3 separate regions of the Homo sapiens genome follow, and regions 1 and 3 are each linked to region 2. The links come from fine-mapping of genetic effects on gene expression. A gene starts in region 2. Each other region holds a variant in brackets. All regions are shown on one strand. Distances are between the middles of the regions.

Region 1 (4,237 bases), 97 kb before region 2:
CAAGCAATTCTCCTGCTTCAGCCTCCCCAGTAGCTGGGATTACAGGCATGCACCAGCACGCCTGGCTAATTTTGTATTTTTAGTAGAGACAGAGTTTCTCCACGTTGATCAGGCTGGTCTCAAACTCCCAACCTTAGGTGATCTGCCCACCTTGGCCTCCCCAAGTGCTGGGATTACAGGTGTGAGCCACTGCAGCCAGCCAAAGAGAGGAATTTTTACATCACTTTTAAATAAGCCCATTTTCAAATATATATAAAAATAAAAGAGTATGATTAACTCCACATGCCGGTCACTGGGCCTCACCAATTATCAACTCATGGCCAATGCTGTTTCATTTCTACCGTCTCTCATTGGCCCCACCCTCACCCCACTAGATAGTTTTAAAACACATCCCAGACATCACATCATTTCATGTACAGATTATTCATTTCATATCTCTGGAGATAAGGTTTGTTTATAGAAATATAACCACAATCCCGTGATCCATCTAAAAAATGCACCATAATTCTTTCCTATCATCGAATAGGCAGTCAGAGTTCAGATTTCTCTACTTGTCTGATAATTTAAAAACAAAACGAAACAAAACATTGGTCTGTTCGACTCAGCATCCAAAGTCCTTGGGTTGCATGTGGTTGATTTGTGGCTACAGTCTCTCTTATCTCTCGGTTCCCTCAAGGGAGGAATTCTTTTTAAAAAATGAATGGAAGAGGCAGGAGCATTTGAGGATAGTGATGGGCATGATTTGGCAGAAGGAGAGAGAGATGATGAATGATATAGGAGACAGGAAGAGAAAGAGGAGAAGAGGAGGAAATGAAGAGGAGGGAGGAGAAAGAGGGGGGAGGGCAGGAGGAAGAGGAGGAGGAGAGGAAGAGGAGGGAAGGAGGAGGGGAGGAGGAGGGGGAAGGAAGAGGAGGAGGAGGGGGAAAGGAAGAGGAGGAGGACAAGGGGAGGATGAAGAGGAGGGGAGGAGGAGGACAGGCAGAGGAAGAGGAGGAGGAGGGGAGGAGGAAAAGGAGGAGGAAGAGGAGGAGGGGGGAGGAGGAGGAGAGGAGGAGAAACTTCAATGGAAGAGGAAAGAGGGAGAGAAGGAGGGAGGTGGAAGGGAAGAAGGAAGGAAGGAAGGCAGGGAGGGAGGGAGAGAAGGAAGGAAGGAAGGGCGGGAGGCAGGGAAGGAAGGAAGGAAGGAAGGAAAGAAGGAAGGAAGGAAGGAGGGAGGGAGACCCCAATCCTTGAGAGAGGGAATCACAGGGACAGATGACAAGGGGGTTCCCTTCTGATGGCTTCTATGTGCACAGGGAAGTGTGGGACCTAGTCATGGGCTGGAGGGCAGGGGGGAAATGTAAGCACACCAGAGACACATAGAGAGTGCCCTGCGCCTGTCTGAGGCCTGTGATTTCTCTGATTCAGGTAAAACCCGTTGGGCTGGCTGGGTGGTTTCCTTCTGCTGGGCTCGGCTGGCACAGAGAAGAGGATGGCTGGAGTTTGGCCAGGTGAGTCCTTTAGAGGCCGAGAGGAGTGAGGAGTGTGAGAATGCTTGAAGGACGTGATTCAAAAGACAAATCACAGAAAGCAATGCTGAACAAAGTGAATAGATGGAGACAACAGGAAAAGGTTGGCAGAGAAGAGGAACCTGCGGCCAGGGTGTACCCCTCTCCTTCTGAAGAGCATCTTTTCCCTTAGCTTCTCAGGGGCTTCCATTTTATTTTGTTTTGTTTTGTTTATGAGAGATAAGGTCACATTTTGTAGACCAGGCTGGAGTCCAGTGGTACAATCATAGTTCACTGCAACCTCGGACTCCTGGGCTCATGCGATCCTCCCACCTCAGCCTCCTGAGTAGCTGGGACTATAGGCACATGCCACCACATCTGGCTAGTTTTTTCTTTTTTTAAGAGATAGGGTCTTGCTATGTTGCCCAGGATGGAGTGCAGTGGCTATGCACAGGCATGATCCCACCAGTGATTAACACAGGAGTTTTGACCTGCTCCATTTCCAACATGGGCCAGTTCACCCCTCCTTAGGCAACCTGGTGATCCCCCGCTCTCAGGAGGCCACCAAACTGATGCCAAACTTAGCGTGGACCCTGCATTGGCATAGTGTACTACAGCCCAGAACTCCTGGTCCCAAGTGATCCTCCTGCCTCAGCCTCCCGAGTATCTGGGACCACAGGTGTGTGCCACCATGCCTGGCTCCCTTACTTTAAAAAAAATAATAATTCTATCTATGTCCCTAAACTGCTTATTGTTTAGCTTTGCCTGTGTTTTGAAATGATATTTATTTTTGAGACAGAGTCTCACTGTGTTGCCCAGGCTGGAGTGCAGCGGTGGGATCATGGCTCACTGCAACCTCGACCTCCAGGGCTCAAGTGTTCCTCTCACCTCTGCCTCCTGAGAAGCTGGAACTACAGGCAGATCACGCCACCATGCCCAGTTTATTTTTAATTTTTCTTGCCATGTGGTCCAGGCTGGTCTTGAACTCCTGGCCTCAAGTGATGCCTCC[T/C]GGCTCGGCCTCCCAAAGTGCTGGGATTACAGACACGATTCACCACACCCTGTTGAAATGTTATATGTAAATGGGAGCACATCTGTGTTGCTGTGTGTAATGGAAATTGACTCATTTTCACTGCTGCATAATACTCCATTGAATAACTATACCACGATTTATCCAGTCTCCTATAGGTGGACATTTTCATTTCCTTTCCTTCTTTTTTCACCCTAAACTTTTTATTTTGGAGTAATTTTAAATTTACTGGAAACTTGGAAAGATGGTACAAAGAGTTACCACATCCCCCTCACCCTTTCCCTGATGTTGGCATCTTACTTTATCACAGGACAGTCATGTGCCACATAACAACGTTTTGGCCAATAAGAACTACACATATGACAGAGGTCCTGTAAGATTATAATACTGTATTTTTACTGTACCTTTTCTTTTTTCTTTTCTTTTCTTTTCTTTTTTGTTTGAGATGGACTCTCGCTCTATCGCCTAGGCTGGAGTACAGTGGCGAGGTCTCGGCTCACTGCAGCCTCCGCCTCCCAGGTTCAAGTGATTCTCCTGCCTCAGCCTCCCAAGTAGCTGGGATTACAGGTGCCTGCCACCACACCTGGCTAATTTTTGTATTTTAAGTAGAGATGGGGTTTTACCATGTTGTCCAGGCTGGTGTCGAACTCCTGACCTCAGGTGATCCACCTGCCTCGGCCTCCAAAGTGCTGGGATTACAGGCATGAGCCACCACGCCTGGTCTACTGTACCTTTCTATGTTTTGATGCACAAATACTTACCTTTGTGTTTCAGCTGCCTACAGTATTCAGTACAGTTGCATGCTGCATGTTTGTAGCCTAGGAACAATAGGCTACACCATACAGCCTAGCTGTGTGCTAGGCTATACCATCTGGGTTTGTACAGCTTACGACGTTCACGCAACAAGGAAAAAATCACCTGAAGATACATCTCTCAGACAGATCTCCGTTGTTAAGTGACACAACTATACATTTGTCAAAACTACAAAAACATTGGCCAGGCTCGGTGGCTCATGCCTAAAATCCTCATACTTTGGAAGGCCGAGGCAGGCGGCTCACCTGAGGCCAGGAGTTTGAGACCAGCCTGGCTAACACAGTGAAACCCCGTCACTACCAAAAAATAAAAAATGTATAAGCCAGGCATGGTGGTGCACTTCTGTAGTCCCAGCTACTCAGGAGGGTGAGGCAGGAGAATGGCTTGAACCTGGGAGGCGGAGATTGCAGTGAGCCCAGATGGCACCACTGCACTGCAGCCTGGGCGACAGAATGAGACCCTGTCTCAAAAAAAAAAAAAAAAAAAACACACACACACAAAACAGGCGGGGTGCAATGGTTCATGCCTGTAATTTCAGCACTTTGGGAGGCTGAGGCGGGCGGATCACCTGAGGTCAGGATGAGTTCTAGACCACCCTGGCCAACATGGTGAAACTCCGTCTCTACTAAAAGTATAAAAATTAGTTGGGTGTGGTGACGGGCGCCTGTAATCCCAGCTACTCTGGAGGCTGAGGCAGAACCTGGGAGGCGGTGGTTGCAGTGAGTCAAGATCATGCTATTGCACTGCAGCCTGGGAGACAGAGCCAGACTCCATCTCAAAAAAAAAAAAGGCTGGGCGTGGTGGCTCACGCCTGTAATCCCAGCATTTGGGAGGCCGAGGCCGGCAGATCACGAGGTCAGGAGATCGAGACCATCTTGACTAACACGGTGAAACCCCATCTACTAAAAAT
Region 2 (4,236 bases):
GACTGGGGCCGCACTCTGATAAATTGTGGTTTGACTGAGGTTTCCTACCCTTTGGGGGTTTTTGGGTTTGTTTTTTTTTTGAGACAGAGTCTCGCTCTATCGCCCAGGCTGGAGTGCAGTGGTGCGATCTTGGTTCACTGCAACCTCTGCCTCCCGGGTTCAAGCGATTCTCCTGCCTCAGTCTCCCGAGTAGCTGGGATTACAAGCGTGCGCCACCACGCCCAGCTAATTTTTGTATTTTTAGCAGAGACAGCGTTTCACCATGTTGGCCAGGCTGGTCTCAAACTCCTGACCTCAGTTGATCCGCCTGCCTCAGCTTCCAAAGTTCTGGAATTACAGGCATGAGCCACCAGGCCCGGCCTGTTTTGGTTTGTTTTGTTAAAACTTCATAGGCAGTTCAAGTGTGCAGCTAGGATTGGAAACCTCTTAACAGGATGATTCCTTCCTAACCTGTAACTTCATTTTTTCATTCATCCGCTCAACATGTGGCTTATAGGTTACTAGGGCGGGAAGACGCCTGAAGGAAACGCACTGCTGAAGTGGCACTAGACCCACGTGCCACTCCCTCAGCGAATATTCACTAAGCACCTGCTGCATGCCAGGCCCTGGGAATACAGCAGCACTGACGGCATTCCCAGACTGCCCTCCAGGAACTTCTACTCTCCACATCCAGAAATCTGGAATCATCACAAATTCCTTGCCACCTCCGTTATCCAGTCTGCCTTTGAGAACTTTCCATCATGTAAGAGCTGTCTCTTACATGCTCAGCACATAGTTTGTGATTTTTGACACATATTTTCTGAATGCCTGCTTTGTGTCAGGCCTTGTGTTCCAGGTACAGGCGATAAGGCCGTGATCAAGGGAGATCAGCCTGCTGCCTTCATGGAGCTTGCAGTCTGTGTGTGCTCGAGGTGTCCAGGACAGCTGGCCAACCCATGTCTTCTGGAAATGATACACAGATGTGCACATAGTACCCAAACCTCCATGGCCTTCTAGGGACAAAGCAGCACAGACAGGAACCCCTGAAGGCCCCAGAGTCGGAAACACCTGGTTTACATCCTGTCCCCACCACTTGCTAGCATATCAGTCAGTGGACTTACTCTTTCTGAGCCTCCATTTGATTCTCTCTAAACTGGGATAATAAACCTCTTTGTAGAGGTTTCTTTCTTGCAAAGATTAGTGAGACAGATTTGCAAAGGACGTCCGGGCACATAGTAAAAGCTCAATGAATCCTGAATAAGTGAACCGGCAGGGAGGGTAACAGTAGGCCCTTGCAGAACAGTTGTAAGGAATCAGATTATCAGAGCCAGCATGACTGTCACCAAGTAGGTGTTCGATAAAGGAGGTGGTTATTATAGCTGGATCATTTTTCCTTGGGGGCAAGAAGAATGTATTAATTATTTTAAAGGTGATACTGTTAAGATTATGAACTATAGGCCGGGCAAGGGGGCTCACGCCTATAATCCTAGCACTTTGGGAGGCCGAGGTGGGCGGATCACCTGAGGTCAGGAGGTCCAGACCAGCCTGGGCAACATGGCGAAACCCCATCTCTACTAAAAATAGAAAAACTAGCCAGGTGTGGTGGCGCCTGTAATCCCAGCTGCTGGGAGGCTGAGGCAGGAGAATCGCTTGAACCCAGGAGGCAGAGGTTGCAGTGAGCCGAGATCGCACCACTGCACTCCAGGGTGACAGAGCAAGACTCCGTCTCAAAAAAAAAAAAAAAAAAAATAGTGAACTGTGGAGTTACCTTGTTTGGTTTCCAGTACTGACCGCTCGTTACTAGCTGTGTGATCTTAGGCAAGTTACTTTACCCCTCTGTGCCTCAATTCCTTCATCTCTAAAATGGATTTAAGTACCTACCTCCACCCCCTTGCGAATTTTTAATAAAGTATTAGATGGAATGCACTTACAGTAGTTCCTGGCACATAAGGGCAATATTAAGTTTTATGATGATGATGATTCGACCTTCCACACAGCATACAGCGAGAGGCCGTGGCCACCACCTCCCATCTCTAGTCACAGACTCCTTATGGCAGCCCCTTGGTCCAGAAATGGAAAGGAGAAGAGAGCGCGGGCGCAGTGGGGCAAAGTCGCCTGGGAGGCCCGAGCAGGCGACCTGGCCGCCATCTTGGGAGAGGGCAACGCCGGCAGCTTCCGTACGTCATCAGCCCGCGCAACGGCCGGGCACCCGGCGGTTCAGGTCGCTTAGAGAGTCGTAGGTTGGGTAGTGCGGGTTGGGGCGGGGGCTGCGGAGAGGGTGCTTAACTGAGGGGCATGATGGGGGAGGCGGCCGTGGCCGCGGGGCCTTGTCCGTTGCGCGAGGACAGCTTCACGCGCTTCTCGTCGCAGAGCAATGTGTACGGGCTGGCAGGCGGCGCCGGCGGGCGCGGGGAGCTGCTGGCCGCCACCCTTAAAGGCAAGGTGCTCGGCTTCCGCTACCAAGACCTCCGACAGAAAATCCGGCCAGTGGCCAAGGAGCTGCAGTTCAACTACATTCCCGGTGGGTGGCGCTATGGTGCTGGGGGGCGGGGGCCTGGAACGTGGTGTTGAGAAGGCTTCTGAGGCTCTGTCTGAGCCGGGTCACCGTGCTGGAAGAATGGGATCAGGTGGTTTTAAGGGGGTCACTGGGATCAGCGGGCAGGCATAGTTGGGGCCCGGATGAGCCTAGGGTTTCAGGATTCTTCAGACTTACAGGTCAGGATCCCTAGTACCCAGGGAACAGAGATCAGGTGATGGTGGTCAGGACTCAGACCAGAGGGCATGATCATTGCGGTAGCCAGAGCTCACCATGTTGGGGAGATTGGAAGCATGAGTCTGCCTGACACTGAACTTAGAACTCTCCCCTCCCAGTGGATGCGGAGATTGTCTCCATCGACACTTTCAACAAGTCACCCCCCAAGCGGGGTCTGGTTGTGGGGATCACGTTCATCAAGGTACCTAGAGCCCCCTCCACCTCCCTTCGCCCTCCTCCTTACACACATGGTGAGTTCCACTGAGCCGCCCCGGATCCCTCCTGCCACCCCTGCCCTCCCCTGAACCCCGTGTCCTCCGCCAGGATTCAGGGGACAAGGGCAGCCCCTTCCTGAACATTTACTGCGACTACGAGCCCGGCTCTGAGTACAACCTTGACTCTATTGCCCGTGAGTGAGGCGTGGACGGGAGGAGGGAGAGAGTCCCCAGCAGGTCCCCCATGCTAACCTGCCTGTGCCCTGCCTACAGAGAGCTGCCTGAACCTGGAGCTCCAGTTCACTCCGTTCCAGCTGTGCCATGCGGAGTGAGTGTCCCCTGCGCATCGACGCCCACTCCACTGTAAATGTAGAAACCCTGGCTTCTCGAACCCCTTCTTTACTTACAGACCCCTGTAGTCTGTTTCCCCTTCTGGAAAATAAAGAGGTTGTACTAGATTAGGGATTGAAAACTAAAATGCCAGCCGGGCACGGTGGCTCACACCTGTAATCCCAGCACTTTGAGAGGCTGAGGCAGACGGATCACCTGAGGTCAGGAGTTTGAGACCAGCCTGGCCAACATGGCGAAACCCCGTCTCTACTAAAAATACAAAAATTAGCTGGGCATGGTGGTGTGTGCCTGTAATCCCAGCCTACTCAGGAGGCTGAGGCAGGAGAATCACTTGAACCCGGGAGGCGGAGGTTGCAGTGAGCCAAGATTGCACCACAGCACTCCAACCTGGGTGACAAGAGCGAAACTCTGTCTCAAAAATAAATAAATAAAATAAAATGAAATTAAACTAAAATGCCTTTGGGGACCAGAGAGGTCATGTGAGAATGGAAAGCACAAATGTAATATAACAGGGAGCACATGTGCACACACACATATGCAGCTGAGGTTGGAAAGCTGTAGCTAACTGGAGACCACGAACTTGTCCATAGACAATCAGATTCTACATTTGTTTTTTAAAGCATTGCACTTTTTTTTTCTTTCTTTTTTTTTTTTTTTGAGATAGATGCTCGCTCTGTTGCCAGGCTGGAGTGCAGTGGCTCGATCTCTGCAACCTCTACCTCCCTGGTTCAAGTGATTCTACTGCCTCAGCCTCCTGAGTAGCTAGGATTACAGGCTCACACCACCATGCCCGGCTAATTTTTGTATTTTTAGTATAGATAGGTTTTTGCCATGTTGGCCAGGCTAGTCTCGAACTCCTGACCTCAGGTGATCCGCCCGCCTTGGCCTCCCAAAGTGCTGGGATTACAGGCGTGAGCCACCACGCCTGGCCGGAGCATC
Region 3 (4,237 bases), 79 kb before region 2:
GTACTCGGTTACAAGGGAGTCCTCTAATGATCCAGATGTACTGGGTTTTTCTTTTCTTTTTTCTTTTTTTAGTTTTTTATTTCCATAGATTTTGGGGGAACAGGTGGTACTCGGTTATATGAGTAAGTTCTTTAGTGGTGATTTGTAAGATTTTAGTGTACCCATCACCCAAGCAGTATACATTGAACCCAATTTGTAGTCTTTTATCCCTCATCCCCTCCCACCCTTTCCCCCCAAGTCCCCAAAGTCCATTGTATCATTCTTATGCCTTTAATCCTCATAGCTTAGCTCTCACTTACAAAGTGAGAACATACGATGTTTGATTTTCCATTCCTGAGTTACTTCACTTAGAAGAATAATAGTCTCCAGTTCAATCCAGGTTGCTGTGAATGCCATTATTTCGTTCCTTTTTATGGCTGAGTAGTATTCCATCATATATATATTTCTTTATCCACTCCTTGATTGATGGTGGGCATTTGGGCTGGTTCCGTATTTTTGGAATTGCAAATTATGCTGCTCTAAACATGCATGTGCAAGTATCTTTTTCTTATAATGACTTCTTTTCCTCTGGGTAGATACCCAGGAGTGAGATTGCTGGATCAAATGGTAGTTCCACTTTTTGTTCTTTAAGGAATGTCCACACTGTTTTCTATAGTGGCTGTACTAGTTTACATTCCCACCAGCAGTGTAGAAAGGTTTCTTGTTCACCGCATCCATGCCAACATCTGTTATTTTTTTATTTTTTGATTACGGCCATTCTTGCAGGAGTAAGGTGGTATCCCATTGTGGTTCTGATTTGCATTTCCCTGATCGTTAGTGATGTTGAGCATTTAAATGAAAACACAAAATGATAAAATTCTTGGAAAGAGTATTTGGGTCCTTGGGAATGTCTGCCGGGTTGCAGGAGACCATAAACTCTGCCTCGTAAGGGCTAGCAGAGAGTTTTGTACCTAGAAGGTGCTAAAACTCTTGTTGAATTGAATGTATTTGTTGACAGAATAAAAGGAAGCTCAGTATCGGTAGAGAGGGTTTTGCTTTACTGTCTGGAGAAGGATGTAAATATCAAGGCATGGCCTTTGGACTTTTGGCTTGCCTGTCTGAGGTTGTAACCTGACCAGTTTGTTCTGTGGACTATGGGAGTATATTGGAAAGCAGGTGATTTGGCCTTGGGGAGTCCAGAGACATTCTTCCCCCTGACCCAGCACCTTATGTGTTTTGTAGTTTAATTGGAGCAGTGCAGTATACAGTTCAGTTTATAGGGAATCAGTACTGTGTAATGGGCAAGACCATTAGCGCTAATGTCAGAGTATCTGGGTTTAAGATCTGGCTGTTGGGTTTTGACTTTGGACAAATTAGTCTCTCTTATTTGTAAAAGGGAAGTAATACTACAATCTAGGTTTTTGTGAGAAGTAAGTTAATGCATATAAAGCACTTGGTATGATACCCGATGTGGAGAAAGTGCTTAATAAATACGATTTTTAGGCCAGGCGCGGGGGCTTATGCCTGTAATCCCAGCACTTTGGGAGGCCGAGGCGGGTGGATCACCTGAGGTCAGGAGTTTGAGACCAGCCTGACCAGCGTGGTGAAACCCTATCTCTACTAAAAGTACAAAAATTTGCCAGGCGTGGTGGTGAGTGCCTGTAATCCCAGGTACTGGGAGGCTGAGACAAGAGAATTGCTTGAACCCAGGAGGCAGAGGTTGCAGTGAGCCGAGATTGCACCACTGCACTCTAGCCTAGGGGACACAGCAAGACTTCGTCTCAAAAAATATATATGTGATTTTTATTCACTTGTTTTTATTATTGGGAGATGCAGGGGGAGATGGGTTTTTCCCCTCATAGAGTGGTGAAAACAGTTTATAGCAGCACTGTAGCAGACACTGTGGAACTGGTGAAATTTGAATTTGGCTTACAGATCCACACTCCTCTCCCTGATTTTTTGGAAACCCAAAAAGCTCTGAGAATCCTGAGGCATCTCGAATATCATCTGGTGGCCAAACCTGACCCTACATGTTGCTTTTCACAGCCTTTATTTCACGTACGCTGAGTGGTCATAGGCAATGATGCAGAAATAATTATTTGGTTACCAGGTACTGCCTTGAACCCCACTGGAAGTTACTTAAAATACGGGGTATGCATTGATTTACACTTCTAAAACCCCCTCAAATTCTGAAACTCAGTTGGGTCTCAGAGTTGTATATGGGATTACGTACCTGTATGTGACTTTAAATTTGTGCTGCCTCAATAGGCTGCATACACGCAGACAGGCAGGTAGACATATAACATGCAATGCAGACATTGCAGGTGCAGAGGTTCTATTACATATCAACATGAAAAGTTCTTAGAAAGTAGAAACTGGTGGCCTAGAAATCTAGTCCCAAACTCCCGTTATTCAAGTATGCACTAGATTTGTTATTCAGTGAGTCATGAAGCATTTCTTTAACATCTAGGTGTGAGCAGAATTATTCACAATAGCCCCCAAATGGAAGTAACCCAAATGTTCATCAACAGGAGAGTGGTTAAACAAAATGTGGTCTCTCCAGACAGGGGAACATTATTTAGCCCTGGAAAGAAATGGA[G/A]CAGTGACACGTGCTGCAATGGGGGTGAACCTTGAAAACACTGTGCTTAGTGAAAGAAGCCAGACACAGAAGGCCACAGGTCATCTGATTCCATTTGTGTGAGACAGATGGCCATCTGAAGGGGCTATGCTTTTTTGTTTTCATGACTCATAATTTTTTGCTGAAAAACTCGATCTCTCATTTTTCTCAAGCTTCCATGATTCGAAAACTGGACATTTTATCTGTTTGGTTTTTTTTGTTTTGTTTTTTGTTTTTAGTTTTTTTTGAAATGGAGTCTCAGTCTGTCACCCAGGCTGGAGTGCAGTGGCACAATCTCAACTCACTGCAGACTCCATCTCCCGGGTTCAAGCGATTCTCCTGCCTCAGCTTCCTGAGTAGCTGGCATTACAGGCACACACCACCACGCCCAGCTAATTTTTGTATTTTTAGTAGAGATGGCGTTTCACCATGTTGGCCAGGCTGGTCTTGAACTCCTGACCTCAAGTGATCCGCCCTCCCGGACCTCCCAAAGTGCAGGGGTTACAGGCATGAGCCAGCGCGCCTGGCCTGTTTTTGTTTTTTTTGGGGAGACAGTCTCTGTCGCCCAGGCTGGAGTGCAGTGGCACGATCTTGGCTCACTGCAGCCTCCACCTCCCGAGTTCAAGCGATTCTCCTGCCTCAGCCTCCCGTGTAGCTGGGATTGCAGGTGCCTGCCACCACAGCCAGCTAATTTTTATATTTTTAGTAGGGACGGGGGTTCGCCATGTTGGCCAGGCCAGTCTTGAACTCCTGACCTCAGGTGATCCACCCGCCTCGGCCTCCCAAAATGCTGGGATTACAGGCGTGAGCCACTGCACCCAGCCTGTAAACTGGATATTTTGCATATTGCAGTCTGGTAACTCTGGGAATGGGATTCTTCCTTTCTTCCCTGTCCTCAGGCTTGGTTGTTTCTGCTTATTGTGGGTTGTAACTGTTTGTTTAGTGGCTTTTCTAAGCTATTTTTGTAAAGATTGTGTTCTTTGTGGGGTGTGGTCAGTAGTCTGTTCTGTTAGTTTAGTGGTCAGCTAGTGACTTAACAGAGATCTTCTTAAACTCCTGGAGCTAAAAAAAAAACAAAACAGAAAACAAAAAACAAAAAGCTCCCAGTAGTTGCAGCGGGGCACTGCTTCCACACTCAGGCAGGCGGTTAACAACCCTACCTTCGCCTTCACTCTCTGCCTGCACAGAGCGAAGGTCAGCCAGAGGTGAGAGCTTGGAAGCCTTCTCTGGTCCTTTCCAAACATGTGCCCACCCTGAGATGCCACCTTCTAAATTCCCAGGAATATGTGGAAGCTCTTTTTTTATTCATTTGGATTTTTTAATTTTTTTAATACTTAATTAATTAATTATTTTGAGACAGGGTATCACTTTGTTGCCCAGGCTGGAGTGCAGTGGCGCAATCATAGCTCAATGAAGCCTCCAATTCTTGGGCTCAAGCGATTCACCCTCCTCAGCCTCCCAAGTAGCTGAAACCACAAGCATGTGCCACCATGCCCAGCTAATTAAAAAAAAATTTTTTTTCATAGAGACAGGGTCTGACTTTGTCAAACTCCTGGGCCAAAGTGCTGGGATTACAGGTGTGAGCCACCACACCCAGCCAGAGCTCAGTCTCTGTGTTGTATAGTTCTGTGGGTTTTGACT

Evidence for each region. PIP is the estimated chance that this variant, and not a neighbour inherited with it, causes the effect.
Region 1: its variant is the best candidate, but not a certain one, in a credible set for the expression of KPTN in sun-exposed skin (GTEx, PIP 0.59).
Region 3: its variant is the best candidate, but not a certain one, in a credible set for the expression of KPTN in aorta (GTEx, PIP 0.88).

What each region holds. Positions count from the first base shown.
Region 1 is chr19:47,578,973-47,583,209 of GRCh38, reverse strand. It overlaps the pseudogene RN7SL322P. Among named protein-coding and RNA genes, the nearest start is that of ZNF541, 7.9 kb to the right of the region's middle. The variant T/C (reference allele first, on the strand shown) is at 2,497.
Region 2 is chr19:47,482,199-47,486,434 of GRCh38, reverse strand. KPTN (kaptin, actin binding protein) reads left to right here and starts at 2,216. Exons shown (of 12, transcript NM_007059.4): 1 at 2,216-2,500; 2 at 2,851-2,933; 3 at 3,056-3,140; 4 at 3,220-3,274. The coding sequence starts at 2,275. NAPA-AS1 (NAPA antisense RNA 1) reads right to left here and starts at 2,153. Exons shown (of 4, transcript NR_038452.1): 1 at 1,911-2,153. It also overlaps a transcript of NAPA not described here. RefSeq lists enhancers at 1,842-1,971, 2,002-2,291.
Region 3 is chr19:47,561,150-47,565,386 of GRCh38, reverse strand. The region is part of intron 2 of ZNF541 (zinc finger protein 541); the gene reads left to right. Among named protein-coding and RNA genes, the nearest start is that of ZNF541, 9.9 kb to the left of the region's middle. The variant G/A (reference allele first, on the strand shown) is at 2,579.